4 linked regions of the Homo sapiens genome follow. The protein of the gene in region 2 interacts with the protein of the main gene of each other region in a biochemical or structural test. Each region holds a gene or a part of one and is shown on either strand. Other genes may lie near its edges.

The links.
Region 1: the proteins of EVL (region 2) and PFN2 form a complex in vitro, tested with the Homo sapiens proteins (one study listed by BioGRID).
Region 3: the proteins of EVL (region 2) and TES form a complex in vitro, tested with the Homo sapiens proteins (one study listed by BioGRID).
Region 4: the proteins of EVL (region 2) and DNMBP form a complex in vitro, tested with the Homo sapiens proteins (one study listed by BioGRID).

The regions. Positions count from the first base shown.
Region 1 is NC_000003.12:149,967,793-149,975,455, forward strand, and holds the start of PFN2 (profilin-2), read right to left. Parts: upstream 3,104-7,663; 5' UTR 3,065-3,103; coding exon 2,933-3,064; intron 759-2,932; coding exon 566-758; intron 1-565. UniProt on the Homo sapiens protein: Binds to actin and affects the structure of the cytoskeleton. At high concentrations, profilin prevents the polymerization of actin, whereas it enhances it at low concentrations. By binding to PIP2, it inhibits the formation of IP3 and DG.
Region 2 is NC_000014.9:100,131,206-100,138,576, reverse strand, and holds part of EVL (ena/VASP-like protein), read right to left. Parts: exon of another isoform or gene 5,859-7,371; coding exon 5,798-5,858; intron 5,531-5,797; coding exon of another isoform or gene 5,418-5,530; intron 4,377-5,417; coding exon of another isoform or gene 4,289-4,376; exon of another isoform or gene 2,679-4,288; intron 2,673-2,678; coding exon 2,609-2,672; intron 1,000-2,608; coding exon 933-999; intron 838-932; coding exon 775-837; exon of another isoform or gene 1-774. UniProt on the Homo sapiens protein: Ena/VASP proteins are actin-associated proteins involved in a range of processes dependent on cytoskeleton remodeling and cell polarity such as axon guidance and lamellipodial and filopodial dynamics in migrating cells.
Region 3 is NC_000007.14:116,205,836-116,213,580, reverse strand, and holds the start of TES (testin), read right to left. Parts: upstream 3,043-7,745; 5' UTR 2,874-3,042; coding exon 2,847-2,873; intron 1-2,846. UniProt on the Homo sapiens protein: Scaffold protein that may play a role in cell adhesion, cell spreading and in the reorganization of the actin cytoskeleton. Plays a role in the regulation of cell proliferation. May act as a tumor suppressor. Inhibits tumor cell growth.
Region 4 is NC_000010.11:100,006,770-100,014,991, forward strand, and holds the start of DNMBP (dynamin-binding protein), read right to left. Parts: upstream 3,179-8,222; 5' UTR 3,069-3,178; intron 2,815-3,068; exon of another isoform or gene 1-2,814. UniProt on the Homo sapiens protein: Plays a critical role as a guanine nucleotide exchange factor (GEF) for CDC42 in several intracellular processes associated with the actin and microtubule cytoskeleton.

The sequences.
Region 1 (7,663 bases), on a different chromosome or scaffold from region 2:
CCTACTTTTCAAATCTAAGTCTCAGACACAATCTTTGAAAATATTTCAGTGAATGGACAACTTACTCCAAAATCCTCATCTAATTATCTTTTCCCCAGCAAAGTTCCTAACTGAAAAATGAACGGATGTTAATTTTTCCTTCTTTATGCTGAGTAGTGAAATGGTTAGAATACAAGCAAGAAAAAAAAGAAAAGAGATCCAAAGGTCAAACACACACCAAAAGGGACTAAAATAACCAAGTGATTCGAACAATTTAACAATCTGAAACACCACAGGATTATGATTTGACATGTCAAGCAGTTTAAGAGACTTTTAAGTTTAATAAAGCTGAAAGTGAGTTCATACGAATATTCTATCGTAGAAACAAAATCAGGATCTAAGAGGCCAGGTCATAGATGCTGTAGAGTAGGTAAAACTAAAGCAGTGCTTCTCCATAGTGCTGGGCAGTTCACAAAAACCACCTTAATAGCCATTATGGACTAACTTTTATTCAAAATGTTAAAAGAAACTGCTTAATAAGTTGTAATGTGGCATGCAACTTTAACCAAAAGAATGCCTTACTCACCTCTACCAGCTCTGCCGACAGCCACATTGTATGTTGGCTCCCCACCTTGACTCTTTGTCCGGATGTCCATTGTGCAGTCACCATCGACGTATAGACTATCTCTGATCACTGAGCATTTCTTCGCGCCAAGAGTCAAACCGTTGGTAAAGAAACCTTCCCGGTCTTTTCCTACAATCATATCTATTTCTATTGGCTGCCCCCCACCAAAAAGAAAAAAAAAAAACACACACACATTAAGTTGTAGTTAACTCCTTTTAGGGCTTGATGTAACAGGAAGGGCTGTAGCTAGGCTTATGCTACCACTGCCAGATAGCCACATTTCACTAATGTAAAACCAAGATTCAGTCTTTTCTAAATAATTATTTAATCCTATATAATCACATATTTTACATGAGTTGATTTGACTTCAGTTAATGATGTCGTCTCTTAACCAAGACCAGTCTATACAAAGAAACTGTAAAGAGTTGACAGTTGACACTAGACAAAGTGCAAACTTAAAGAGTTATTTATAAACTGTATTAAGTCAGCTGGTGCCTGAAAGTGTTCACGTAATGGTAAAAATTCAGCTATCAACTCTGAACAAAGCTGGTCTATCATATTCAGTCCCATTACAGTAAATCATGTTTCATCAAATTTAAAGTTGCTTCAAAGTCTCCCAAAATAAAGCCTGTTCTTTGATGTGTTCACTTCTCTGCTTAGAGTAACTAGAAATATACGTGATGAGATGGACTTCAACCCCTGGACATCAGTGCTTTTCCAAATTCATATTTCCCTCCTATTTTTCTAGCCACGACTCCCGTTTCTTTCCAACTTCCCTTCCCCTCCCATCTCAGTAATCAGTTTTCTTTCTGGGCAAACGCAAAGTGGATTCTGTCTACAGCACTGCGGTAGGCAATAGTAAAACAGAAAAAATGGAGGGAGATTGGGAAAGAAACTGAGGTAGCCACCAGAACCGGAAAGGAGAAAACGTGCATTCTAACATTCCATGAATAAGAAGGAAGGCGTCGCCCCCATCAGAACTGCAGAGTCATAGCAGGCCCCAGCCATTTCCAAGCACACTCCCGCAATCTTCCTAGTCAGACAGCGGGAACTCACACACAAAGACAAGAGGACTGCAGGAAAAAAGTTGATGACCAGATGCCAATTCCCTACAAGAATTGTAGTCCACTGCGGGTATACGAGACCTTAAAGTACTACTATCAAGGACTGAGTTCTAAAGTTAGACTTTAAACCATGTTAAGTGGTAAAAGAATAATTAGCACCCTTAATAGGGGACCTGAATTTTGGTGCTTAATGGAAAGGGAGCGTGGTGCTAAGAAATAAAGAGAATGGTCTCGTATTTAGTACAATTATCATAATTTTAGAAACAGCCTTGGGCAGAAACAGGCAAAACAATAAGCTGGAGGTTTTGTGGCAAATATTCTCCAAACATATTGCAACCAACTCAAAACCATCAAGTCTCAAGAAAATCAGGCAATGTGAAGCATAAAACTGCATTAGTTCCTTTACTGCCACCACTAAAGAGGGAGGGACTTAGAGAAGTGAAGTGTGCTCCTGGTCTTCGCAGATAATTGAAAGCCCCCGAAAAGCACCCCTTTTTTGAGCTATGTTGCATAACTGGGGATAACCGTATATCGATGAATCTCCATATGAGAAGAGAAATCAATGGCAGTTCGCCATCTTGGAGAATTTAAAAAAAAAAAAAAAACAACCTATAGAGCTAGAGCTGAAGTCGAGATTCACGAATCCACCTACGCGGTCGGCGTACATCTCTCGCAAGCCCCAGAGGCCTGGACATCGGTAAACCTACGCAAAGTCGCTTCGAGAATCCCGGGGGCCGGGCCGGGGCCGCCGCCTCCCACAGCCGGAGGCGCGGGAGGCGCGCTGTCCGCGGAGCAAGAGCCGGCCAGAGAGCCTAGGGACCTCCACCCGGGGCCCGCGCGCCCCAGCCCGGATCCCCGACCCCCGCTTCCACCCCAGAACGTGCATAGCAAACCTCAGGGCTTCAAGAGAACCTAGGGGAACCGCACTAGGAGGAAAAAAGGAACCCCTCCCCTTGCCCTGGCCGGTGCGTGCCCCCTCCCCCAACCCGGGCACCTGGACCGACGCTGGGAACGCCGGGGGCGCCCGGCCAGGGCCAGCAAGGAGTCCGGCCGCCGCCCCCAGCCTGTCAGCGCAGCCCCGGGTGAGGGGGCGTCCCCGGGCCTCGGCCTCCCCGCCCGCCCGGCAGCCGCATCCTCGGCGCCCGCTGCCTAGCACACCTGCGGGCTCGGCCCTCAGTGTTCCAGCCCCGCGCTGCGGTGCCCCCGCGGCCGGCCACCCCGCTCCGGTGCAGGGACCAGGGTACCGGCCGCCACTGGTCCTCACCGTAATGCTCTGAAAGACGCCCCCGGCCGTGGCTGCCCAGACGTATTTGGCGTCGCAGTAGCCGACAATGGCGGCCTCCTGGCAGCAGCCATCGCACATCAGGTTATCCACGTAGCTCTGCCAACCGGCCATCTTCGAGCCCTTCGCACTGCAGCGCGGACGGCGAGGAGCAGCAGGCGCAGCGGCGGCGGCGGCGGTAGCGGGCGGCGGCGGCGCGGGGGGAGGCGGGGCGGGGGCGGGGAGGAGGCGGCTCTGCGCAGGCACCGACCGCCCCCCTCCCCGAGGAGCTGCGGCGGGAGGACGCGGGTTCAGCGATGAGGGACGAACCTCAGAGCGCGCTCGGCCGCCCGGCCGCCCGCAGCCGCGGGGCTGACAAACCAGCGGCGGGAGGCTGCGAAGCGGCTGTGCCTGTGGCGGCTGCTCCTTACCGCAGCGCCCTCCGTTTTCCGCGGACACGGCTGGGCGTGCGCGCGCGCGTGCGTGCGATCCTTCCGCGGCGCCCGGGCACGGAGGGTCCCGGGAAGGGCGGGGGGAGACTGAGGCGGGGGCGCGGAGGGATACCGCCCCGGGACAATCACGGCCGCCACGTGCGGGAGGCGCCGGCCGGGAGCGGTGGCGGGCCGAGCTTCGGACCTCGGGCCGGCGGAGAGGGTGGACCCCGCGTCGCTCTCGGCACCCCAGGAACAGCGGCGGCACGGACGCCTTGGAGCCCCGCGGCCGGGCCGCGATGTGCTTTTCTCCTGTGTTCGCTGCCCGGGATGCGGAATCTTGAGCCTCGGTGTCGGGTTACAGAGTTGTCCTGGTGACGGGATGCGGAGCGTTTCCTCCTTTTTGTTGTGGGGGCGGCTGGTGGCAGGGGCAGCTGGTGGCAGGGTTGCCCACGCTAATCTCCGAGTCTCTAAGGGCACCGTCTTTCCTGGATCCCTCTTGCGCCTCGTCCATAAAGGCAGACCCGCGGGCGCGCGCCGGCAACCTGAAATCAGAGCAGGCGTCCGTGGCGCTCAGGAACCTTGCTGAGCTTCGCCGATCTTTCATTGTTGCTTCATTTGGGTACCAAGGGCCTCTCATTCTGTGGATTCTTTGCCTGGAGGAGCCCCCTTAATGTTGCTAATCACGTGTGGTTAAATTGCTCGTAAATTCCGAACAAAACAAATAGCGACCTGTGTTACACTGTTTCTTGGTAACTGGGAAAGTTACTGGTGGCTTGAAGTATACGCAGAAAATACAAAGATTAAAAACTAGGGAAGAGTTCACTGAATGAACACCGTAACATTTCTGCTCTGCAGGGTAAAATAATTTCGGGACCCAGGTCTGGGAAAGATTTGTATTAACAAGGTAAACGGTGGGTAGAGTGCCTGAGAAGCTATTCGTATCGTCTTTGGTAGCCTCTGGGCACTAGGACTAGACATGGAATTAGGGGTCCCCCAACAATGACTTCAATTTTAGGTTAATAGAAACCATCTGCCACTTAAGGGAAAGAAAGCACCAAAATGTAGATAAGTTGATGTTCACCCTTAAAGTTATCGTGTGAGGTCATGATTTGTAGGAGGATTAAGGAATGTATCTCTGGAAAGGGCAAGAACGTTGCTTTTAAAAGTCTAATTGGTTCTGAAGTTTTATATTTTTTCTGCTGATTGCTTTAAAATGTTCAGCTACTAGAGAGAAAAAAAGTACAGTAAAAGAAACCCCCAAGTCAGAGACCTATCAGACTGAGAATATGTATTTTCTCATGTTCTAAAGATACAGAATACCTGTGTGGTGTAAAATGTGAACCAAAAATTGTTTCATTTTTGTAAGTGTGCCTCCCACCTGATTTAATTACACTTAATTGTTCTTGTTTATGACTCTGCCTTTTATGGTGATGTTGATCATTTTAGTCCTTCGATCATAGCACTGTATCATCTTAAAAGTTAATAATAGATTACTTGTAACACAGGCTCACTATGTGAGAATTCATCAAGCTGTATGTACATTTATTGTGCTCTTCATTGTATGTATAATTCAATAAATTGAAACAGTAAACGAAAAGGTAATTATAGAAAAAATACAGTGATAACTTGAAGTATGTTGAATTTTTATTAATTTACTCTGAAGGTTTTAAGATATAATTTCTAGACGTTACTATCTTATTGTTATAGCACAGAGTTGGAAATAACTACATTCTTTTCCTATTCTTTTATTGTTGGCTTTAAACAGTGAAAGAATTTGACCAACAATATTTTCTAATTCAAATCTCAAAAGATTCTAAAACACATTTCTTGGGTAAAATATTCACAAAAATTTAGAATTCTTGTCATTCTTCTATATTTTTCAAAATATAATTCATTTTAAATTACTGCTTACTTTTCCAACATGATGTTATTTTTCTAGAATTGCAAACAGTAAAATTTAAACAACTATGAAAAAAATTCTGTATAATAGATTAAATTTTACAGTTTCAATTTTTAGGTTATATATTCAAAGAGAGTCCATGTGCTGTCTTGGTTTTCAGTACTGTAATAAAGTAACCTGTGCTTTTTTGTTTGTTTGTTTATTGAGATGAGACTCCGTCACCAGGGCTGGAGTGCAGTGGCATGATCTCGGCTCACTGCAACCTCCGCTTCCTGGGTTCAAGCGATTCTCCTGCCTCAGCCTCCCAAAAGTAGCTGGGATTACAGACACCCGCCACTACGCCCAGCTAATTTTTTGTATTTTTTGTAGAGACGGGGTTTCACCATGTTGGCCAGGCTGGTCTCAAACTCCTGACCTCGTTATTCGCCTGCCTCGGCCTCCCAAAGTGCTGGGATTACAGGCATGAGCCACCATGCCCGGCCACCTGTGCTTGTTTTCTTTAGAACCAGCTTCCTTGCATGCTGCTTTATTTTCCATTTGTGTACAGTGATCCCTTCCTATTTCATCTAAGTGTTGCTTATACGTTTCAGAAAGTATAAATAGAGGTGGAATACTGAGCTTTAGTAATAACAATATTGGTTCACTTAAGTCCAAAGGAGTATCAGTGTGAGAAAAAGAATTGCCAATTTGTATCTTCCTCTACTTTTCTGAGAGTAAGTAATCCCTAGGATAATTGTAATATCTGGGCAGAAGTTTAGAAAAGTTGTGGCTGTGTTGTTGATACAAATAGCCAGAATAATGTAGCCATTAACAATCAGTAGCATATTTAAGTTTGGAGTGCATTATTATGCATTCTTTCCAGAATTATTTTATTCTTATTGAGTAAAGCAGAAACTGTGTAGTAAGCCACGTTCTTTAATGTGTAAGTCAAGTGGTGTCTGAACCACTTGAGTCCATGTAAAAATCATTTGAAATTTTAGCAAAACACAAACAAGAAATTATCTTTAAAATGTACACAACCTGATAATCATTGGGAGCAGGATCTAAAACTATACACAGTAATTACCCCCAAATTTAGTAAAACCATAATTAACCATCAGTTATTTAAAAATTTCACCGCATAGTTCATTTCTGAAAAAAGTATATGAATTATAAAATCAATATCACAGCAATAAAGTTTAGAAAATGGAGAAAAATCCTTAATCCCACAAGCTAATACAAATATCTTTTGAATGTATTCACTATGTATGATTTTTACAGTAAAGAACAAGGAGAACTTATAATTCTGCATTTGGCCATTTTACCCTGAAATTCTATGAATTTTTGCTTTTTATATTTTGAGGCTATTAGGAAAATGGAAATTTAAATTGTTATATTTTTCCTTTCTGATGAATTTATTCTTTATTATTTAGTAGTTGCCCTCTTGATCACCAATACTGCTTTTTGTCTTAAAATTTTTGTCAAATATTAAGGTAACATCCCAGCTCTCTTTTTATTGGTGTTTACCTTATATATCTTTTCGCTCCCCACCTCTCTTTCAACCTTTCTCTGTCCTTTTTATTTTGTGTCTCATAAACTTCACGCAGCTGGATTTTGTTTTTTTATCCAATATGGCAGTATAACCTTTAATTGGCAAGTTTATTCCATTTACATTCATTGTAATTATTGACATACATTTGGACTTGTTTGAACTAATTTTATTAGTCTCTTTTTTTTTCTATGCTTTTTTCTTCCTTGCCTTTAAAAAAAATGTCGGGCATGTGTGTTTTATTCTTTTTTTTTTTTCAAATTTATGCTACCAATTTTTCTTAGTGTTACCCTTAAATTTTTGCCTTGCATATTTAATACAATAAAGTTTTAAGTTAAATATCTTAAACACTACCCCTAGACAATCCAAAAACCTTAGAATGTTTTAAGTCTGGACACCTCTCTCCAGACTCTTACACAGATGTTTATGTATGTGTGTATATATATGTACTTACATGTTTGTATTTTATTTACTTACTATTCCTTTTCATATCTCAGATCATTCTATGATCATTTTTCTTTCTAAAGTACATCTTTTAGAAGTTCCTTTAATAGCAGTCTGTTGGTGAGAAACTATGTTTATCTGAAAATGTATTTATATCACTTTCATCCTCTGACAATGGGTTGGATCTACAATGCAAAATGGACACTTTGAAGATGTTATTCCATTTCATTTTGGTTTTTGTCACTGCTGTTGTATCATATGGATGATTTGTCTCTTTTCCTCTGGCTACTTTGGAACCTTTTTGTGTTTGCTCTTCTACAGTTTCACTATGATGTGTCTACATTTGGGTTTCTTTTATTCTACTTAGGAAAATAGATTTATATTTATCATCACTTCTGTAAAATTCTCAATTACTATCTCTTCAATTA
Region 2 (7,371 bases):
TTCAGCTCTGCAAGGCCAGTTTCAATGCCTCCTGCTCTGTGATAAGGGTGGTTTCCCTTCAATTTGTGGTGGCGATGGAGACATTCTTGACGCAGGTTCTAGAGGCCTTCCAATTCAGGCCACATGTACCTCCAGATACTATGTGGCTGGCTGCCTCTGCCTTTTTGGGCAATCTCAGTTCCAAATATTCTATCATGTTGTCATGCCAGCTTTTGGCTTGGGAAATATGGTCAGTATGTCTGTGGGGAAACTGATTCTGTGTGCCGGCCGCAGAGGAAGGACTCTGGGCTGGAGGAAAGGGGTAGGGCTCAGCGCCAGTGCTAGGACTGGTTGAACTGTAGGGTGCAGCCCTGGCTAGTGACCACACCCCATGTCCAGCTGTTGCTCACAGCTGTCCCCACCACCACCCTGTGCAGCAGGGGTTAACAGACCTCACTTTGTGGGGGGAAAACAGAGGCTTGGAGAGGTCCCCTAACTTGCCCACTGTCACACGTAGTGAGTCCAGAGCTGGGACTCCATGTTGGCCCCCCCCTGCACTACCTCTGTGGACAGGTCACTGCCCTCCTTGCCCTTGGTCTCTCTCTCAGAGGGAAAAGACGGAGCAGCTGACTGACAGGACCCCGAGGTCCTGGGTCTGAAAGAACAGACCACCTTCGCAGAGCAAGTTGTTAAATGCCAGGACGTGAGACAGCGTGCAAGGGTGTTAGTCACGGGACGGGGGACAGAGGAGCCCCAAACCCTGGGGGACATGTGAGCAGGAGGGTTGTTCGGTACCTAGAGTGAGGCTGCGACTGAAGGGGGCTCTTAGCTTCGGGGCTCTTTGCCACAGACGGGGTTCTACGGCAATGGAATGAAACAGACATGTGAATCGGCGCCAGCGCCCGCCTCTGCCCCACCAGCCTCGCTGCTCAGGCCTTCCTGGGGCAGCTCACCTGGACAGAATCGAGGACACAGGCTTCTCCACCGAGTTGCTCCGCTCCCAGGGCTTCCGGCCAGCCTCTGTCAGTTCATTTCATGGATGAAGAACCTCACAGGTGAAGGGACTCAGTAGCCACCCCAATCCCCTAAACACCCCAACAGGAAGCCCTCACCCATGCCAAGGGTGCAGAGCCCCGTGGCAGGAAGGTCTGATTGAGTTAAGCCAAAACCTGGCACCTTGTTCTCAGTCCCCCATGGCCTAGGTCAGGTTGACCCTGACCTGTGATCTGGTTCTGAGCCCTTCACTGTGCCAGGTCTCTCTGGAATGTGAGCCTGCTGGTAAGGGACCCAGTGACTAGAGCCACAGGGCGAGCAAGCACGACCTCCCCGGACATCCCAGCACAGCCTTGCTCCCACGTGTGGTGTGGCGGCCAGGCCCCTCGGCCCGGCACCTGCTACTGAGGGGCTCCTTAGTCTGCCTCCCATGCTGCGCCTGGCTCTGTCCCATTCTGGCTGGCTTGTCTTTTTTAAGTGGTATTGGATTATATTTTGTTCTACTCCAAAAGATTTGTTGCATTAACTTGAATTCGTTGACTGTGCAGGACAAGCAGAGGCAGAAGACAAAATCTCTAGGGGGTAGTGGGGCAGCTGCCTGGCCCAGAGCTAAGCCTTGGCACCCTGCGGACCAACGGTGGGATTGAGGCAGTTTTCCTCAAAGCCACCTTCTGGGACAGGCGCTGGGCCTGCAGGCACTAGACCTGGGGCTACAGACATGTCCCAGGTGTGTGGCCTTGAGCAAACCACTTTGCACACAGATGGGAACCACGTAGCCCACTCACTGGGCTGTTGGAAGAAGCAAACAGGGCAGGGGTATTGATCACGTTCATCAGCCAGGAACCTATGCATCCTGGCAAATCAAGACACCAGGCAAAAATCTTAGGAGGAGAGGACATGGCGTGCAGTTTCACAGGGAGGCGACACCCAACCTGAGCATGCCCCAGAGACACACGCGAACAGCTGGCAAGAGCCTCCTCTGCCCAGCTAGGGCAGCCTGATGCCCCTGTCTCTCCTCGCTGTGCTCATGAGCACAGGCCTGGCACAGAGCAGGTGCTGCAAAGATGTTTGTCGAATGAACAACCAACCCTGGGGTCTTCCTCCCCTGCGAAGCCTCATCATACTCTCCTAACTACCTCCCATCTGCCACAGCTTAGACAGAGAGAAACCTGAGCCAGGGAAGGGGCTGCGTTTTGGGTGGAGCGAGATCTACTGCCATCTCTGTAATGTCGGTCATCAGCTGGCGTTTCACTGGGAGACATGAGTCCTGACACTGATACCTCTTAAGAGCACTGGCCCCAGCCTGCCTCAGGAGCCCTGGACACAAACTCCCACCCTGAATATGTGCCGTCAGGCAAGTGCCTTCTCTCGTGCGGGACTCAGGGTCCTGGTGGGAAGGTGACACGCAGGTCACCCTGGGGACCCATCACAGTGGCTCTGCTCTAGCACTTCCTGTGCTCCCACATGGGCTCCTGGGGGAGGCTCTGGGGGACCCATAAGAAATGGGCTTCCCTGTGGCCTGGCCCTCTGCTCAGGCATACTAAAGAGGCTGGATCAGAGGGTCCTGTCCGAAGGGTCCCCCCTCCCACTCTGAGACCTCATGCCTCACTGGGGTCAGCGGGGGGCGCCCTCTCACCTGAGGAGTTAGGTGGCTGGCTGGCTGCTCGGGTCCCCGGAGAGGGGGAGGTACTAGGATCTTCCTAAAATGGAGAAGAAGGGAGTCTGTTTAGGAAGGCCACCTGGGGCCAGGGCAGGACATCATTGGACACTTCATAAAACCTCAGTTTTCCAAATGTTCCCAATGAACACATATGACTTTTATAATTAGCAAAACATTAAATATTTAAAAGTGAAAACGCAAAATCTCAGTGGGGAGAGAATCGAGCCAGTGGACAAAGCTGGGGAAGGGGAAGGCTACAGGGAGCTACAGGCTCTCAGCAGGGTGATATAGAACTTCCTTCTGGCCCTCAACACCCGCAAGCCCTGAGCCCCCCTTGGGCCGGATGCCTCCCGTATGTCATCTCACTGACTTCTCATGAGCACCCCGTGGACTGGCCTGCTCCCCCTGTGCAGCACACACACCTGCCCGTGTAATAGGTCTGTGGCAGTGCTCGAACAGTGGACGTGTTCATCCAGCAGTGGGGACACCTAACACTCATCATGCATGGCATGTGCGTCAGGATGGTTTTTCAGCATCAGGAACATGCCACTGATTAAGTAATAAGAGTAATCCTTCCACTTGATGAAGCAGAATGCACAGCATTTGAGCTGTTGACAGGCGGCCACCCAACCTGATGTGTCATTCTGATCTGAAGCAAAGAACCTCTCCCTTGTCACCGTGGGCAGAGGTCTTTGCTTTGTCTCCTCTGCTCACTACATCCCCACACGAGAATCAGGAACGCCCTGCGTATCTGTGTGGTGAACGAGTAAGTCCCGGGAGGCTCTGGTCGAGAGGCAAAAGCAGGTGCCAGCCTGCAGGTGCTGGGATGAGGTTCTCAGGCCTCCTCATTTTAAAGACAGCTGAATAACAGATTATGTCAATCAACACACACATGTGGGGGCCACGATGAAAGCGATACAGGGTGACATCAGAGTCACTAAAAAATTATCATCTTTTCTTGTATGTTATTTTTTTAAAACCCTCCCTGCTTAAAAGGGAAGTTATGCTTTGACTCTAGGCTGGGAAAGAGGTGGCCGCAGCACTCCCAGGCCCTGGGCACAGAGACTTGCACCCCACCTCTGGCAGTCGCACAGTCTGTGAGGCGGCCATGCCTGGGTGCAGGTTTTCAGGTGGTGGAACTGGTCCTCGGAGCAGTAACTCCATTGGCCCAGGGCCAGCTCTGCCATGGCAGAGGGCCTGCCCAAGTCACCGGACTCCACATTTGGGGCTCTTTTCGTCTTTCAAATAAGCCTTCTTTCTTCTCTGTTAATGATAAACTTAGTGCATGTTCACTGCAGAGAATTGGGGAAATACCAGGAAGCATGAACAAGAAAACGAGTGCCGGCCATCAGCCTCTCTCCCTCCCACTGCACTTGTGTGGTGTGTGGATCTTCTGAAGGCCCTGCTCTCTTTAGACGCTAGTCCTGGGTATGAGAAGGGACCATGGCAAACAAGAACCAGCTGTAGCCAGGGGCCTGTGAAAAACAAGACAGAAAAGATGGGGGTCTGAGGAGGAGAGTGCTATCCTTGGGGTTGAAGGTTTCAAGAATGTTCCTCTTCCAGAAGCCCCTGGGCTTTGAAATCCATTCTTCTTAGAGCTCCAGGAGCGAGAGTTTTAGTTTTCAGGGGCTGGGACTGCAACATACTGGCACCTGACTAAGAAAGGCCAGCGATGTCTTCAGATCCCCAGGGCTGTGGCTGGAGCGAGGCCACAGTATTTTGATGTCTGTGATTATCCCGTGGCCTGCAATTTCAGAAATTCATGGCAAGTCAGTTGGCTAAACTCCACAGCATGTGCAAGGTATGGGAATGGTGGACGTGTGAGAAGCCCAGGCCTCGCCCTCCAAGGGCCTAAGATCTGGCAGGAGACAACGAGTCTCCACAAGCAGTCGTGCCTGTGCAGAGGGCCTCGGGAGAAGACCGGGGCTGGGATCAAGTAGTGAGGAGCTTTGTGAGGCCTGGGGGTCGGGAGGCTGTTTTTTTGTTGTTGTTGTTTGTTTTGTTTTTGAGACGGAGTCTCGTTCTTGTTGCCCAGGCTGGAGTGCAATGGTGCGATCTCTGCTCACTACAACCTCCGCCTCCCAGGTTCAAGCAATTCTCCTGCCTCAGCCTCCCGAGTAGCTGGGATTACAGGCATGCGCCACCATGCCCCGCTAATTTTGTATTTTTAGTAGAGATGACGTTTCACTATGTTGGCCAGGCTGGTCTCAAACTCCTGACCTCAGGTGATCCGTCTGCCTCGGCCTCCCAAAGTGCTGGGACTACAAGTGTGAAGTGTTGAGCCGGCCGGGAGGCTGTTTTTTAAGGTGTAAGGGTGATGCAGGGAAGTGCAGGCTGAATGGGAGTTGGCTGGTGGGGCAAAGGGACCCATATGTGCCCAGGACGGGGCTGAGAGGCGTGGATCAGCTGGGAGGGCTATAGCCTCAGGGTAACACCAGCATGACCCTGACTGATGGGAGGACAGGGCAGGAAGCCTGCTCTGGTCCCTGGCAGTTTTATTTCCTCTCTGATTCTGCACTGAGGTGGAACCTTCAAGGCATTTGTAGTTAAGGCTAAACTTAGCCCTGTCAGTAGGAGTCTTTTTATAGGAAAAGCTTAACATGGAGGAAAAGAGAATTAGCCGCCCTAACTGGAAGCAGATGTTGGGAGCTCTGGCAGCCAGGCTGGCTCTGGGCTGCCTGGTAAGGACAAGAGCCAGGGGTCCAGGGCTCCTTTGCCACAGCTCACCTGAAGCTCCTGCTGGAAGAGGAGTCTTTAGAAACAGAAATAATTTGAAAATAAAAACCTCTCTGGGCTTCTGGCAGACGTGCCCCTCTGCAGTGTACTCCTGGAGTCCCAGTCCCGCCGAGACCCTGGCTGGTCTGTGCTCCCCGGGGCTCCTGGGAAGGCGAGGTAGCCCTGCGGTGCAGCGGCCAGCGCCTCAGGCTGCAGCTCCAAGGGTGGAGCAGTGTCTGGTAGGGGGTGCTCAGTGAGGGCAGGCCTGCTGCTGGGGCCAGGGTGGCGCAGGGACAAGCACCGCAGAGACCCTCCGCCCCTCCTGTGAATCACCTGATGAAGCGCCCATCCCACGCATGTCCCAAAGGCCTCGCCTGAGACCAGAGAGCCTCCCTGGCGATGCGCTCATCTCAGTGGGGAGCCTGAGGGTGGGGCGGGCTGCTTGCTCACCATTTGGCTTTCATCTTCCTTCTTCTCGGCTGGCTTGTCTGACTGGGAGGCTGCTTTTCTCCTAGGCACAGAGAAGGGGAAGATACAGATCAGCTCCTCACGTTCTCTCACTGTCCCAGAACTCTTCTGCCTCCACCCTGCCAGACTCACCCCGGTCCTCAGATAAACCTGTGTGGGAAAACGATGGCGTGAAGGAGGCGGCTTGTCTAGGCCCCGTCTGGTGAGGAGCCAGGCCCAGGCAAATGTCCAGGCCCTCCGTGTGGTCATGGCCTGGGACACAAAACTGGTCTAGGCAGAGAGGGCGAGATGCCTCTATGTCTGTTTAGCTCTACTGGCAGCAGCTGTAGCATCTGAGGCGTGGAGGGGAGGCGGGCACGCTCTGTCCCCAGGACACTGAAGGCCTGGCCACACGGGACAGAGAGGCATCTCTCTGGGCTGCAGTCTGTCCCACAGGTCGGGACACTGGACACTTTCTTGTGTCACTCTAAGGCCCTTGTGTCTTGGAACTCAGTTAACCCAGCCACGCCCTCCCCAATCTAGAATGCCACTCAGAGCCTGGAAATGCTCAGAAGAGGAGCCCTGGAATAGGTCCACGTGACGCCCTTGAGTCGGTTCGTGCACCTCCCCAGTATGAATCCCCGTTTCATGTACTCTAAAACCTCACCCATATTTTTTGGCCTCAGTGGTATCTGCTGACCTCCCAGGTCTACAGAGGCAGGCAGACCCTCAGTGTTTCCCAGAGATACGCTTCTGTGGCTTTTCAACTTGAGATGAGCTGCCCATCAAGCATGGAGCTGGTCTGAGGTGTGATAATGGGCCGTGGCCAGGCTGTCACCTGTCTGTGATGGGCCTACCTGGCAGCCTCCTCAGCTACAGCAGGGGCCCCCTTCTTTAGCTCCCATCTCAGGACAGGTCTGCCCACCTCGTCCCTCAGCCCAGAAACCAGGGAATCATCCCTGACACCAGCTTCTTATAACTGTCAGCCTGGTCAGTTCTCTAAATCTGGGTACCTGCCTGTCTTTTTTGTCTTCACCTTCAACACCTTCCTGCATGCCCCTATCATCTCTTCCTGGACTGTCAGAGTCTCCTAACTGGCCTAGCCACGATCACTTACACCTCACCAGCTACCCCCCAGCAGCCAGTGTCCCATCTCCTAGAAACAGAACGCTGACCAAGCCACCTGCTCACGGGGAGTGTAGGCGGGATGAGTGTCTGTGAAAGTGCTGCTGAACAGGAGCTTTCTGTCCACGTTCATTTCCCTCCTGCCCTCCACTGTTGGGAGACTCAACTGCATGCCCTCAGAGGCGGGAGACAACCTACATGAAAAGAAACCTGGCAAGGGCACTTTCATCGTCGGCTCCACCCAGTAGCCATCACTGAGGTGGATTTCAGAGAGCACCTGATTGATCCCTGCTGAGCTATGCAAAGCATGTTTGTTCTTGGGAGGGCCTTGACTCTCCCACCGGCATCTGGCATCTCACTGGCTCCTGGCAATACTGGCCTTTTCCTGTTCTCAGACAGAAAGGTGCTTCCCCTCAGCTTGGTCTAGGACTTAGGGAAAGCATTCATATTTT
Region 3 (7,745 bases), on a different chromosome or scaffold from region 2:
ACAACTGATGTGGACGAGCTTTCCTTTTACAAACCAAGAATTTTATAATAGTATCATCTATCTCAATCACTGTTTAATAAAGACAGTCCTCCTTAATTCTTTTTACATGAAATGTTAATGTGGAACAATGATGCTTTTCATCTGTCTGGAAGAAATTCCTCATGAAATCAACAATGTAAAAGTTTTAGAAGGAAAAAATGTCATACATCTTAAAACAGAAGTCATATTAGTTGTATTTAAATGGTTGTATCTTTGTTCCAACTTTTAATCTTCCTTTTCTCAAGGTACATTCAAACTATAAATTTTCTTGAATAACTGAGTCAAAAAGAAAGGAGACTTGAAAACTAGGTACCAAAATAGGGTGAGGACTCTGCTGGTAAATCAGATAGTCTTGTAATATTTCCTTCTTTGGACGTGTTAGAAAACAATTGCTAAAAGGAACATAAATTTCTTTTTGAGAGTATGGCTAAGATTGTGAAATACATTCCTGAGATTTCCAAATTTTGTACTGGGAAACTTTTTGTTAGACTATCAAGCCTATTAAGGGACTCACAAATTGGAGTCATACGGGACATCTCTGCGGTTTTTTAATAGCTTCCAATTTACCAGTTGAGGATTCTAAGAATCATCAGTGAAGACAACGTAGTGAAACAGGGATTTGTTATATCATGGGATTCTCTCTAAAACCTTTAATTTATGGAATTCTTTCTGGGGTGGTAGAGGCGGAGAAGAGGAGGATTAGAGAAAGTTAAGATTCTTGGTTGAAAATATAACTTTTAAAAGTAAAGTGGGGGATAAACGAGGAAAATTACACCATATGTCAAGGGCATTATTTATCATAATCCACATTTTCAAACTCTAAGGAAATTGTTTATAAACAACGTCTGGATTTTTCCTTTGCAAGCATATACAATTTTTAAGTTTGAACTTCTTCCCTCAGAATTACTCCTTGTCTCAAAAAGTTTCAAAAATGTCTTTGATTTTTCTCCCCCTATTAAACAGACTTTATTTTTAAAGCATTTTTTAGCTTCACAGCAAAATTGAGCAGAAAATTCGAAGTTCCCATGTACCTCCCCCATGCCTTCCTGTCTCCAGCAGCCTCCCGGACTACCAACAACCCGTATCAGTGCAGTACATTTGTTACAAGTGATGAAACACATTGACACATCATTATCCCCAACATACATAGTTTACATTAGGGTTTACTCTTGGTGTTCTACATTCTATGGATTTTGATTAATGTATAATTACATGTATCAGCCATTTTATAGTATCATACAGAATAGTGTCATTACCCTAAAAATCCTGTGCTTCACCTGTTCATCCTCGGCAGCCCAAAATATGTTTACTTTTGCAAAGTTGTCTTCAAATAAATACTTAAAAGCAAGGACAAGACCCCCCAAGTTTTAGACAAGTACTAAATTAAGTAGCTCTTACCTACTTGAAAACTAAATGAGAGTAGTATTCATCAACAGAAAGCTAAGCGGGCAAAATGCTTTCCCCGCTTTTCCCCCATGACAAGCAAGATTAACCAAAAATATTACAGTTATTTAAAAGAAAAAAAGAAAGAAACCAAATGGGAAGAGAATAGAATGCAATCACGCTACCATTAACAATTTATGTTTTTCTGTTCTTGGATACCTTTTTGAGTGCCTGAGAATTTTAGTCGCAAGGAATGAAAAAAACTGTTTTCTCATTTCGAGTTTTTATTGGTCAATAGCTTCCTAACCGAAAACTCTGCAGTCCTAACACAATATTTTGTATCCATTTTCAAAAATCCAGTTCTGGGCATAAAATAGAATTAATGCTCAAGTCAAAAACTTTGTGTTTAGAAGATAAAATATTAGGAACCATGAGTATGAGAAAAACAAAAACTGTTTTCTGTATTTTTCCCTTCCTCTCTCTGCAAAACTTCTCTATTTGATAAGGGACAGCTAGCTTAAATTTACCACAAAGTAAAACATGAGCAAATCCCCTGGAACGAGGAGAACTTTCGCACAGGGCAATTCACTCGAATGTGACATCAGCATTCCTTCTGAGTCATAGTCTGGTCCCCACCCTTTTCTCCCAGGCGACACCAGGCTCCGCATAACCCGGGAGTGGCTCAGGTAGGGCCGTCGGTTCCAGTGCCTGCGAGGCAGCAGCCAAGCTGAAAATGTCTCCCTGCGCTGAGACGCTGGTGACAACCGCCCTTTGGGACTACCTGCCAAACAAGGAGAATGCGCTCTTTGACAGATAATTCCCTAAGAGGGAGGCACTGCCTCGGTCGGTAGACAAGTAATGAATGACCGAAAAAAAAATCACATTAGAAGTTATCACCAGCACGGGTGCGAAGGCAGTGCATTAAATCAACACTCATTTTAGAGCGCCCCAGACAGCCCAGCCGGAAGGGAGGAGATCAGAGCTGTCAAAGCACAGCAGAGCCCCAAACCACAAAGGCTTAATGAAATTCAACTTCCTGAGCCAGGAAGTGTCACGGTCTCGCCCGCACTCGCCCTAAGCTCGTCCTTTCCTTTTGAGGAGGCACAGGCAGAGCTGAAACATCTTAAGTAAAGTTTCCAACACCTACAACCACTGGGATTCCGTGAGACTGGAGAGAAGAGTCCCGCGCCCGCCCTCGCTCGCGCTTCCAATTCTGTCGCTCCCGAGTGTGGGGAGCTGGCGGGGCCGCCGAGCACCTCCTCTACCCAGGGGGCCAGGTCCCTGGGCCCGGGGCACCGCAGACCCAGAGCCGGGCTCACACCGGGGGGCCCGCGAGCCCCACCCACCTCGGCACCTCCGGCCGCCGCGCGCCGCGCGACCCGCGCAGGTGAAGCAGCCGCCGCCCGCCACGAGCGCCCCCCTACCTTCTTCACTTTGTTTTCCAGGTCCATGTTAACGCGTCCTATGGGTCCCCTCCTCCTCCTATCCGGGATCCCACGGCCGGGTTCAGCTGGCCTCCGGCTCCGCTGCGAACACGGGAAACCTGCGGAACTCCCGCGGCGCCGCTCAACAGCCACTCGCCCGGCGCCGTCGAACTTCCGCCGCCCAGTCCGCCGCAGCGGGCCTGCGGCCCGGACCCGGGAACAAAGGGGGCCGGGCAGCCAATGGCAGCCGGGCAGCTCCGGGCCGCCGCCAATCACCGAGCGCCGCACGCACCTTCGCGGCCCGAGCGCGGCGCTGGCAAGGTGAGAGGCGGGGCGGCGTCCGAGGCGGCGCCCTGCTGGGCAAGCTCAGTGACCCTGACCTGGTCTCCGAAGGGATTCTCTGGGCGTCCACGGGCCGGCTTCTAAAGAGCTGGGATCCCCAGCCTCCCTCTAGCTGAAGATGGAGAAGAACTTTTTCCATTTGGCAATTTGTACCTGTGTTTGCCCAGGACTTTTTATTTGGGTCAAGGGGAATAGTTATCCCAATACTAACTTCTCAGTTTATTTTCAGGGTAAAGAGAGAAAAAAAAGAGAGAGAGAGAGATTGTAGGGATCGTTAGGGATTCCTGTGATGGACCTTGGGCACTAAATTCAATATTGCGTTGTGGAGATGCCCTTTCCTCAATTGCTTTTTTCCACAATCCCAAATACTGTCAAGAAACCGTATCTTACATCCCTAAAGTCAGCGAAGATTCTTAGATTGTTTTCTGAGCATTGGGTTGTTCAAAAGTAAAGATGATGTGAATCACTTCAGAAACAGGTTGTGTCATTCCTTTGGAAGCAGAGGGTTGCCCTTTGTCTCTGTGTGAGATGGTGCTAGGCCTATCGCGTGCTCAGGCTTTGATGAAGCAGAGTCATCACATTGGTGCACCAAAGCTGAATTCATTTCATGCCCTAATTCAGGAGCAATTGCATCTAATACCATCAGATTGGTCGGTCTGGAAGGGAGCCTAACGATTACTTAGTCTAGCTTCCTCACTTTGCAGGGAACTGAGGACTCCAGAGGTGCAGGGACCTGCCTAATGTCTTAGCCTGTTGGGGACAGAGGCATTGCTCATGAATCTAAACAACTTCTCAAAGATGTTTGGGGCTGGAAGCACAGCATGTTGACTAAGGAAAAAGAGCAGTCAATTTTCTTCAATTTGTGGTTATGGCAAAAAATAACATTGCCCAGACAGCAGGTGACCTAATTTGGCACCTACTTTTAAAAATAACAAAACAATATAAAACAAACAAACAAAAATTCCCTAATAATGCAGATATTCAGGTCCAGATGTATGTCTGCCTTGCCTCGAGAAATTTGGTAGCTAAAAATATCCAAAATTCATTTTAGCCAATACTTGCAACTCTGCTTACTTGATTATTTGTTAACACAGAGCATTGATTTATAATGTGCATGTTTCCTTTATCCTATTAAGAATTAAAACTGAAATTACCAAAATGAGTTATGCATTTTTCTTTTCAGCTGATGTAAAACTTTTCTGTGTCATTTTCCCAAACCACCTTGAAAGGTGTGGGCCCCTGCAAAGTCTGCCCGTTGTAAGTGTATAGGATCATGAGGTCTAGCTATGACAAGGCAATTTTGTTTCTTTCAGAGAGCTTAACAGATGGAAAATGTCCAGTAAAGCAATTTAAATAAGGCATCAAACAAATGTTGTAACATAAATTTTGGACCCTTATTTGATGAGGTTGCAGAGATGACACTAAGAAAACCATCTGGAAACTTTTTTTTTTTAACTGTCAACTTCTGCCTTTCTCCCATTCTTCCTTCCCAACCCTCTCAGCATTACATTGTGTGTGTGTATCATTGGCAAGGATGGAAATAGAAATTCAGTGAGTTTTATCTGGAATTATCACTGTGCCAATTATATAAAAATAATTATAGATTATGTATAAATTATAAAAATAAAATTGAGGTAGATAAGTGTTAAGAGAGTTAAATTGTAAGTTTTTGTTCAGTTATTCAGGTGTTAAGCTACAGTTATTAAGGAGGTAGAACTGGCATGGTTTGATGAGTACATGTAGTTGATGACAGTGGAATGAATAGAAGATGGCACACATTTCTATCTTGATCACCTCTATGGATAGCTCAGAAAGAGAGAAAATATAGGATGATGGTCAGGGTTTTGTTCAGTTGTGCATTCTTTGGGGCTGGTGGTGGACATAAAGGATACAACTTTTAATATATTGAGTTTGAGACTGAGACATTGAAATGAGTATCCAAATATACATCTTGAATGCTGATTTAGGAGTTCACATCCTACATAAATAAATAATTAAAGGCCAAGAAGTGAGATGAGCCTCGGAGACAGTAAAATAAAAGAGAAGAATATCAAAGACACCAAGTGAGCAAGGCTGAGCAAGAGAAACACATAAAAGAGATAAGGGCTAGATTAAGGGTAAGAAAAAAATTAGGAGTCAAATCCCTAAAAGCAAGAAAGGAAATTGAAGAAGAAATTAGTTAACAATGTCAAATTGTAGAAAAGGGTCAAATGCCCTTCGGATTTAACAAAAAGGAGATCATTGGTGACTTTGGAAAGTGCATTTTTGGTGCAGTTGTGGGGAAAGATATTACTTTATAATTTTATCTCCCTTTGTTTCTACCAGAGTGCTTTAGTCAATGTTGGACTTGACTTTTCCACAAAACTTATGGACACATCAGCCAAATAAATGCCCAACTCTGCTGTTTCAATCAAGTAGAGAGGAAATCAATATACTATACTGGATAATACTAAGGAATGGTCTTAAGATCTTTATCTTTAGAGAAGTAAATGAAAATACTAGATTTTACACATGTGTGCAGGCACACACAGAGAGAGAGAGACAGACAGAGACAGAGACAGAGGAGAGAGAGAGAGAGAGACTGAAGTTCTCTGTATAGGCCAAACAAAATATTTATTCAGGTTAAATTCAGTTTCTATGCTATCAAATTACAATATCCGATGAGGGAAATGTGTTAAACTTTTATGTACCCTTCATCACTGGAGAGATGTAAAAATACATAAGACATTCCCTTTGTTCTTAAGCAGTTTACAGATTAGTATGGGAGTAGCAGGTGTGTAAGAGTAATGAAATGTTACAGGTAGAGGGAAGCACACGTGAGAGTCAGGGAGAAGGTGGTATTGGGATTTGTAAAATCTTTAGAAAAGAGTAACCTTGGCTTAGTCTTGGAAGATGAATAAGTGTCTTAGTTAAAACTCTTGATTGCAAGTTATATTAGGCCGTTCTTGCACTACTATAAAGAAATACCTGAGACTGGGTAATTTATAAAGAAAAGAGGTTTAATTAGCTCACAGTTCTACAGGCTGTACAGGAAGCATACCTTCTGCATTGGCTTCTGGGGAGGCCTCAGGAAGCTTACAATCATGGCAGAAGGCAAAGTGGGAGAAAGCACTTCACATGGTAAAAGCAGGAGCAAGAGAGACAGAATGTGTTGGTGGGGGAGGATGAGGTGTGCCACACAATTTTAAATGACCAGCTCCCCTGTGAACTCAGAGAGAATGCTCATTTATTGCCAAAGGGATGGCCCAAGCCACTCATGATCCAAACACCTCCCATTGGGCCCTACCTCCAGCATTACGGATTACAATTCAACATGAGATTTGGGTGGGGACAAATATACAAACCATATCACAAGTAATAGTAACCCTCGAGCTAGTTTACTTTTAAAAAGATGGCATTTTATTTTAAGGATACAGAGGCTTGTTGCAAAACTCAAGGGCCAGATGCATCTGCGACTAGACCAGGCACTTGCCAACATCTGGAACAAGGAATCTACTCCTTCACTGGGGTTATGTGGTCTCTCATCTTGCTGCTTGGCCTCCATCAGCTTTAGTTCTTTCTCTTTGAAGACTCTGTTTTCCTGCACACATGGGCAACCAATAAAGGCAGTCTCAGCTCGTTAATTGACATCACCCTAGTTCAAGCAAAATACCCAGTTTGGGATTTCAACCCCTCTAACAAAAAGACTTTAAATAGCCCAGCTTGGATAAGCTTAAACTTCTGATTCAATTAGCTGAAGCTGGTGCCAGTTGAGAGACACAAAGGACAACACATAGACTAAAGCCCAAACTTATAGGTAGGACAAATCTCACAGAGAGGGAGTAATAAGAGTTTTCCAAATGCCTCCAAAGATATCTATCTCTGTTTCAGATGTTACAAGGAAATTAGCAAAGGAAGAGGCTTAGTAAGTACAAGCAGAAGATTTTTCTTTCTGTCGATATTGGAGAACTTTTTCCCTTGACTTTTATTATAGGTTTGGGAGTACATCTGCAGGTTTGTTACATGATTAAATTGCATGTTGCTGGGGTTTGGTTTACAAATGATTTCATCAGCCAGGTAGTGAGCATAGTACACAACTGGTACCTTTTTGAACCTCACCCTCCTCCCACCCTCTACCCTCAAGTAGGTACCATTGTCTATTGTTCCCCTCTGTGTGTTCTGGTGTACTCAATGTTTCTGAACATTTCAAAAACTATTTAAATTACAGAAACCCCACTTGGGCAAAAAGTTGTAGATGTTTATTTTATTGCTAGGAATGGGGGTAGATAATGAATAGGACAAGTCTAAAGAATGGAAGATTAATCAGGAGATTCTAGCTATAGCCCACAAGAAATATGATGAGGGCCAAAGTAAAGCAGTAGCAATGACTGTGGAGAGTTAGAAGGATTTATCAATGATATTAAACAGGTAGAAAATATTGGACTTGACTGATTCTTGAAAAGAGAGAGGATAAGGAATCCATTAGGATTCTATTTTCTATCTCTTAGGAATCTATTTTGGGTGACCAGTTTGGTGGATATAACACACACCTTAAGGCAGGAAACAAAAGTGGAGAAG
Region 4 (8,222 bases), on a different chromosome or scaffold from region 2:
ATGCTCATCCCACTGCCTCCTGCTCACTTCCTCATTTCCTTCCAGTCTCCCACCATGAGTTAGGCCAGGTGTGGTGGCCCATGCCTGTAATCCCAGCACTTTGGGAGGCCAAGGTGGGTGGATCGCTTGAGGCCAGGAGTTCCAGACCAGCCTGAGCGACATAGTGAAACCCCGCGTCTACTAAAAATACAAACATTGGCCCAGCGTGGTGATATAAGCCTGCAGTCCCAGCTTACTCGGGAGGCTGAGATGGGAGGATCACTTGAGCCCAGGAGGTTGAGGCTACAGTGAGCTGTGATCACGCCACTGCACTCCAGCCTGGGTGACAGAGCAAGACTCTGTCTCCAAAAAAAAAAAAGTTATCTCAGTAGAGGCTTTATTTGACCCCTCTATATAAAAAGTAAATCCCCTACCACACATATACATACACACACACACACTCTTACCCTTTCCTGACTCTAAAGTTCTCCACAGCATTATGATCCTTTGACCTATTCATTCACATATTTGTCTGTTTCCACCCAATTAGAATGTGTCTGTTCCACGAGGGCTTAGTCTGTTTTGTTCAAACTGGTTCCCCCTCCCAGCACCCACAGCATACACAAGTGCTACCACGACCCCGGCACACACAGGTGCCCCCCACAAGCACATACAGGTGTTCCTCCTCCCGGCACACACAGGTGCCCACCCTCTCAGCACACACAGGTGCTCAGTGAGAATGTGTTCAGTGAATAAACAAGTAAGGACCAAAAGCCATGCCTTCAGACTCCTCACACAATGCCCTATGTGCCTGCCCTCAAGTGCTGGTTCAATTCTTGGTGGTCACGTCCTTCAGTCAGAAGAAAAGATCTAGAAATCTAAAAATGAAATAATACATTTTAGCTACTCTATTTCACCTCCCACAGCTGCCTTTCATAGCAGGGAGGATAAAGAACACAACTAAAAGTTAACATCTTGGTTTAACGGCTCTTTCATTAAAGAGCTCATTTTACTGCTGCTACTTAAGAACTTTCTGCCTTTCCAGGCAAGAAACTAATAACTCATAATTAACTCCTGACCAACAAGACTAAGTTAACCAATCTTGAAAATTAGCTTATTCAGATGTTTTCCAGAGTGTGTATAATAAGAAACTATTTCATATTAATTGAATTGGTGTTGCAAAACTTTCCAGAAGTATTCTGAATGAATTCTAAGGATGCTTTGGCAGATGATCAAGCACATTCGAGAATTTCACAGGAGATAATCTCGTAATAATACCATGTTGTAGGTAATCCATTAGCTGACTCTAGAAACAACAGAATACTAAACCTAGAAAATAAGCCAAAAGCCAGGCTCGGTGGCTCACGCCTGTAATCCCAGCATTTTGGGAGGCTGAGGCAGGCGGATCACCTGAAGTCAGGAGCCAGAAAAGAGGAAGAGATTGATGGAACGTTGAGGGAAATGCCCTGCCTTGGGGCTGCAAGACAAATAAATAACTGGTGCATATTTAAACAGATCGTTTATGAAGATTATTATTATCTCAGCCAAAAAATACACAATATGAACACTGTATAAAAGTCAATTTATCACATTCTCTGAGTCAGACTGTTCTTGGCTTATTGCAAAAGTTATCAGTGCACTGCACGAACCCCGTTCCCAAGCCAGACTTGAGCTACTCTCCACCCTCCAGAAATCACTCCATTGCAGCCTCTGAATTTAAGTGAATTTAACACGTAAGTATCTGCAATTTGAAAAGTCACTTTTCACTTATTTTAGCCCAACCCTGATAAAGTGACTGAGAGAGCTGAGAATAATGAATTTGAAGATTCGCTATGCCCCATTATGCAGAATTCTAAAAATCTTTTCTTCTTAAAACATTTTTATTATCACAATGAGTGACGTGTTTCAAGTTAACATGTAAAATCGGAGAACTCGAGACAGAAGAGGACCTTAGAGATCCTTTAATTCAATATTTTAGAGAAAAATGGGTAGAGGATAAACTAACTTGCTGATCACCGTGTCGGTATTCATGCTGTGAAAGTAATAAACGGAACACCAACTGAGAAATGATCCCCGAATGCTGTCAGGTACTTCAGTCTTGCAAAAACTACTACAGATTAATCAGTCCTGCTCATCCGTTTAACTCAGCTATGTAAACAAGCAGAGCTAGACTATGCTCAAACCCTAAATATTAGCGTTACCACTCGCCTGCCACATACTACAGCATCATTAGTTATGAAAGTGTTTTAATACAAGATCTTCATGTTTGTGTAAAAGAATTACTATAAAACAGACCTAAAGGCAAGTTACCCATATTCCAGAATAAGTGAGTGCCAAAAATATTCACCCTTCATTACAGTACAAATGAGACAGGCAGTAATAATGAGACTGCATTTAAAGTTGTTTTTGCACTTAAAATTTAAGTCTATACTCCTCATCTGCATCAGGCCCCGGCCTGTTTGGTAACCTCAATATTCCTTTACTAAAGTGACAGCATCACCACCCTTTGAGACACAGATGCCCGGTGGACATCTGTGCCTGCAGCAGGAACGCGGGTGTCCGCGGGTTTCTGCAAAACTCCACCATGACCAAAGCTGCATCTCCAGCTGAACAGGTCTAACCCTTGCTTCGGAAGCCATCTGTCCCTGTCTCCCTGACACAGAATCACGGCCTCCTATGCCGTAAGGCTCCGAACATCTGTAAAATCAGCGGGGTGGACTAACGCAGAATTCTTTTTCCAGCTCTCAAAATTCCGCCTCATTGCCGGAGTGGCAGGGCGGTGCAGAGAAAGAGCCCTGGGCTTGACACCGCTTGAAAAGCCCACGTTCGCATTGCTCTGACCACCCCTCCAACTCCCGGGGACTACAGGAGTGCGAGGGGGCCCGCTGCGCCCCACTGTCCCTCGCGGGCTCCTGGCCCACAGAGCGCAGCACAGCGCCGCCGCTGGGAAAGGGCCGATACAGGCCTAGCCGCGCGGCGCGGCGCGGCGCGTCTCTCGGGGTGCGGGTCCCCTCCGCCCGCGGCCCCGGACCGCGACCCCCGCTCCCCGCCCGGCCCCCGCCCGGCTCCGGCCTGGCCCGGCCTCTGACCTGCTTTCCGCCGCCCGGCGGTCCCTCGGCGCGGCAGGCAGTTGCAGCCGCCAGTCCCCAGCCCGCTGTCACCTCCGCCCCTGGAAGCGGCGGGCGGGTCGATCCCGTGTGAGTCAGCGCGCCGCCCCGCCTCCCGCTCAGGCTTCCGCCTCTGCCGGCGCGGTCCGCGCGGCCCCGGGGGCGCCAAGCTCCGCTGCCCGCGCGCCCACCTCTCCGGCGCCCGCCCCGCGCTCGCGCCCCCTGGCGGCCGGCCCGGCCCTGCTCGCCTCGCGACGTCAGAGGGGCGTCGCTCCCAGAACGGCCACCGGGGAAACTGAGGCACGGGGGCCCGCCCCCGCCGCAGCGCGCCGACACGGCTCGTCGGGCCTCGGCCTCACGCAGTCCTACGTGCAGCCCCGGCTGCGGACAAGTTCCTCCACTCTTGCTGTTCCCCCACTCCCGACACCACCCTCCAACCTAGAAAAAAGTCAAAATTCCATTCAGAGAAGTCCAAGTCGATTCCTGTCTGCGTGTGATGCTGTCCTCTTTGCTACCCCGAGGCAGTTTCCCTTATTATGCCACACAATACTCGCTGGGGTTCGCCTCTATCTGTCCCATTTTTTTCTGAGGAAAGTCTCTCAGGACATCTTTGAGAATTTGAGAGCAAGAAATGACAGAAGCAAGAACTGGGCAGGGCTGTCAGAACTCCTCCTCCGACTCAGTTTCTGAATCCCCGCAGTATTCCCGTTGTTTGTTTAAAGACCACGAAGTTACACAGCTTGGCTATGTTGCTGGAATTGCTGCGCCTCACGTTTCTGGAATCTACCTAGAGGATTCTGAAGAAGGCGGCGAGTCTATGACTGTGCATGCACAACAAAAATAAATATTTCACAAATCTCATCCCATGCTGTATATGTTTCTCCTTCCCTTTGCTTTTTAAAAACTTGTGGTTAAATATATATCACATGAAATTTACCATTTTAATCCTTTTTAAGTGTACAGTTCAGTGGCATTAAGTACATTGACATTGTTCTGCAACCATCACCACCATCCAGCTCCAGAACTTTTTCATCTTCCCAAACTGAAACTGTACCCATTAAACACTAACTCCTCATTCTCCAGCCCCTGGTAACCATCATTCTACTTTCTGTCTCTATGATTACTCTGGATACCTCATATAAGTGGGATCATACAATATTGTCCTTTTGTGAGTGGCTTCTTTCACCTAGCATAATGTCTTCAAGGCTCACCCATGTTGTAGCATGCGTTAGAATATCCTTCCTTTTGAAGGCTGAATAATACTCAATTGTACGTATATAACATCTTTGGTTTATCCCATCTTTCTGTGGACATTTGGGTTGTTTGTACCTTTAGGCTATGGTGAATAATGCTGCAATGAACATGGGTGTACAAATATCTGAGTCCCTACTTTCAATTCTTTTGGGTATATATCCAGAAGAATTGCTGGATCATGTGGTAATTCTGTGTTTAATTTTTTGAGAAGCCACCATACTGTTTTTTTTTCCTTTGCTTTTTGAAGCATGTTAACACTGTAAAGAGAACATTTTGTAGTAAAATATCAACGTTCGGAGAGTCTTTAAAATTCTTAGCAATGCTTCATTTGCCTGTAAAACTGTGACTTTTCGGCGGATCACGAGGTCAAGAGAACGAGACCATCCTGGTCAACATGGTGAAACCCTGTCTCTACTAAAAATAAAAAATTAGCTGGTCATGGTGGTGGGTGCCTGTAGTCCCAGCTACTCGGGAGGCTGAGGCAGGAGAATCGCTTGAACCCGGGAGGTAGAGGTTGCAGTGAGCTGAGATCGCGCCACTGCACTCCAGCGTGGTGACACAGCGAGACTCCGTCTCAAATAAATAAATAAATAAATAAATAAATAAATATTTTAAAACAAGTGACTTTTCTTTCCTCAAGAAAGTAATTAACATTGCAAATCTATTGTCTTTATTTTTGGATAATGTTATTAGCCAAAATAAAAATAACTTATTATTCAGTTTCCTACAATTTTGTTTTCTGTGGATGTAGCTTTCTAAAGTTGTTTGGAGTCAAGTATGCCATATGAAATTCAGATGAAAAATCAAGCATTTCGTTTTATTTATTTTTTTCGCCACGTTGGTCAGGCTGGGCTTGAACTCCTGACCTCAGGTGATCCACCCTCCTCGGCCTCCCAAAGTACTGGGATTACAGGCATGAACCACTGCGCCCAGCCTGGGGATCGGAGTTTTTTGTTTGTTTGTTTTTTTGAGACGGAGTCTCGCTCCGTCTCCCAGGCTTGAGTGCAGCGGCGTGATCTCGGCTCATTGCAAGCTCCGCCTTCTGGGTTCCCGCCATTCTCCTGCCTCAGCCTCCCGAGTAGCTGGTACTGCAGGCGCCCGCCACCACGCCTGGCTAATTTTTTTTTTGTATTTTTGTAGTAGAAACGGACTATCACCGTGTTAGCCAGGATTGTCTCCATCTCCTGACCTTGTGGAGTTTTTAAAGATAATTTGGCTGGTGGGGTCTTGAGAAGTGGGGAGTGCTGATTGGTCAGGTTGGAGATGGAAACATAGGGGGTCAAAATGAGGTTTTCTTGCTGTTTTCTGCTCCTGGGTGCAATGCAGAACTGGTTGAGCCAGATTACCGGTCTGGATGGTGTCAGCAGATCCATCAACTGCAGGGTCTGCAAAATATCTCAAATACTGATCTTAGGTTTTGAAATAGTGATGTTATTCCAGGAGCAATTTGGGAGGTTCAGGCTCTTGGAGTCAGAGGCTGCATGACCCCTAAACTGTAATTTTTTTTTTTTTTTTTTTTTTTGAGACGGAGTCTTAGTCTACCGCCCAGGCTGGAGTGCAGGGGTGCAATCTCAGCTCACTGCAACCTCCACCTCCCGAGTTGAAGCGATTCTCGTGCCTCAGCCTCCCTAGTAGCTGAAATTACAAGCATGCACCACCACGTCCAGCTAATTTTTGTATTTTTAGTAGAGATGAGGTTTCACATTGTTGGCCAGGCTGGTCTCAAACTCCTGGCCTCAAGTGATCCATCCACCTCAGTCTCCCAAAGTTCTGGGATTACAGGTGTGAGCCACCACTCCCGGCCTTAAACTGTAATTTCTAATCTTGTAGCTAATTTGTTAGTCCTGCAAAGGCAGACTGGTCCCTAGGCAAGAAGGGGGTCTTTTTGGCAAAGGGCTATTATCAATTTTGTTTCAGAGTCATGAACTGAATTCTTTCCCAAAGTTAGTTCAGCCTATGCCCAGGAATGAACGAGGACAACTTAAAGGTTAGAAGCAAGATGGGGTCAGTTAGGTCTGCTTTCTTTCACTTCATAAGTTCCTCAGTTAAAATTTTGCAAAGGTGGTTTTATACTTTTCATTTATCAATGAATTCTTACTGTACATTTGTGATGTAACAGGCATTGTGCTAGGTGTTTGGCATTCAGGCTGACCAACACAGACAAGATCCTTGCCTTCATGGAGCTCACATTCTAGAGTAGGGTAACAGACAATAAAGAAATAAACAAATGATAATCCAGACAATCATGGGGTGTAGTTGAGTGTTATGAAGGAAACAAACCAACTGATGCGATAGATTAGATCACAGAGAATTAAAGCCTAGTGCCCTAGGCATTTGTTGTATGTAATGAGTTAACTTCTCTCCTATGCAATGTTGGGGCTTAGAAACCAATACCCTAAAATAGGGTGCTTTGTACATGTTGAGCTGAAAAAGCAGTCTCAAGGTCTCTCTCAACCTCCTCCCACCTGCCCCTCTTCACTGTCTCTCCCAAAGCATAGTATTCTCTGAAGTTTCCTTATCTGTCCAAAGTCCTGACCTACCAAAGAAAAACAATTATCTCTGATCTCTTTCCTGAGTTTTAATTAACTGAACCCACATTGCAAGAAAGAAGACCAAAGTCTGTCAATAAACCTGGACAGACTTTTGTCACAAACCACTGTCTGGTCTGCAGGCCCAACAGACTTTGTCCCAGACCATTGGAAGTTCCTCAAGTTCATTGAATTCTCCCTAGTAATCATTTATTGCCCTCAATAGAATTCCTCTTCTTCACCCTCCCATAACCTGTTTTGCCAGCATCCAAGTCACCATTTTTTCTGTAGCCTCAAGATGGTACATAAGCTTCTGCACCCCATTGGGGGGTTGGTCTTCCGTGTCACATAAAACTATTGTCAAACAGATGCATATGCCAATTAATCTGCCTTTTGTGACCTGATTTTTCAGCAAAACTTCAGAGGGCGAAGAGGAAGTTCACCTGACCCCAACAGCAACCAGAACAGTTCAAGTCATACTCAGTCCTTGAAAGAACTAAGAGGACAATTCACTCCACACAGCTTCTATGTCATGTGGTTTAGATAAGGAATCTAGGCTGATAAAGGCCAAAGTGAGGGATGGGAACCTTCTCTGAATATAGAGATAGTTGGGGAAATCCCCTCTGGGGATGTAACATTTACCTGAAACTTGAATAATGAGAAAGAATCAAGCCGGACATGGTGGCTCAAGCCTGTAGTCCCACGATCTGCAGTGAGCCATGATGGCACCACTGCACTCCAGCCTGTGTGACAGAGTGAAACCCCATCTCAAAAAAAGAGAGAAAGAATCAGCCATGTAAAGAGCTCTTCAGGCAGGAGAAACTGCAGGTGCAAAATCTTGAAGTAGAAAGCCATCTAGTACGTTTCGGAAACACAAAATAAGCCATGTGAACAAAGGAGGCAGTTTTATGAGATCAGATTAGAAAACAAACAGGGCCAGGTGCAGTGTCACGCATCTGTAATCCCAGCTACTTTGGAGGGTGAGGTGAGAGGCTCACTTGAGCCCAGAAGTTCAAGATTGCAGCACATTATGATTGTGCCTGTGAATAGCCACTGCACTCCAGCCTGGGCAACATAGCAAGACCCTGTCTCTTAATAATAATAATAATAACTATCTTTTTTTTTCTTTTTTTTTTTTTGAGATGCAGTCTCGCTCTGTCGCCCAGGCCGGAGTGCAGTAGTGCGTGCAATCTTGGTTCACTGCAACCTCTGCCTCCCAGGTTCAACTGATTTTCCTGCCTCAGCCTCCCAAGTAGCTGGGACTACAGGCATGCGCCACCACAACCGGTTAATTTTTGTATTTTTAGTAGAGATGGGGTTGCATCATGTTGGTCAGACTGGTCTTGAACTCCTG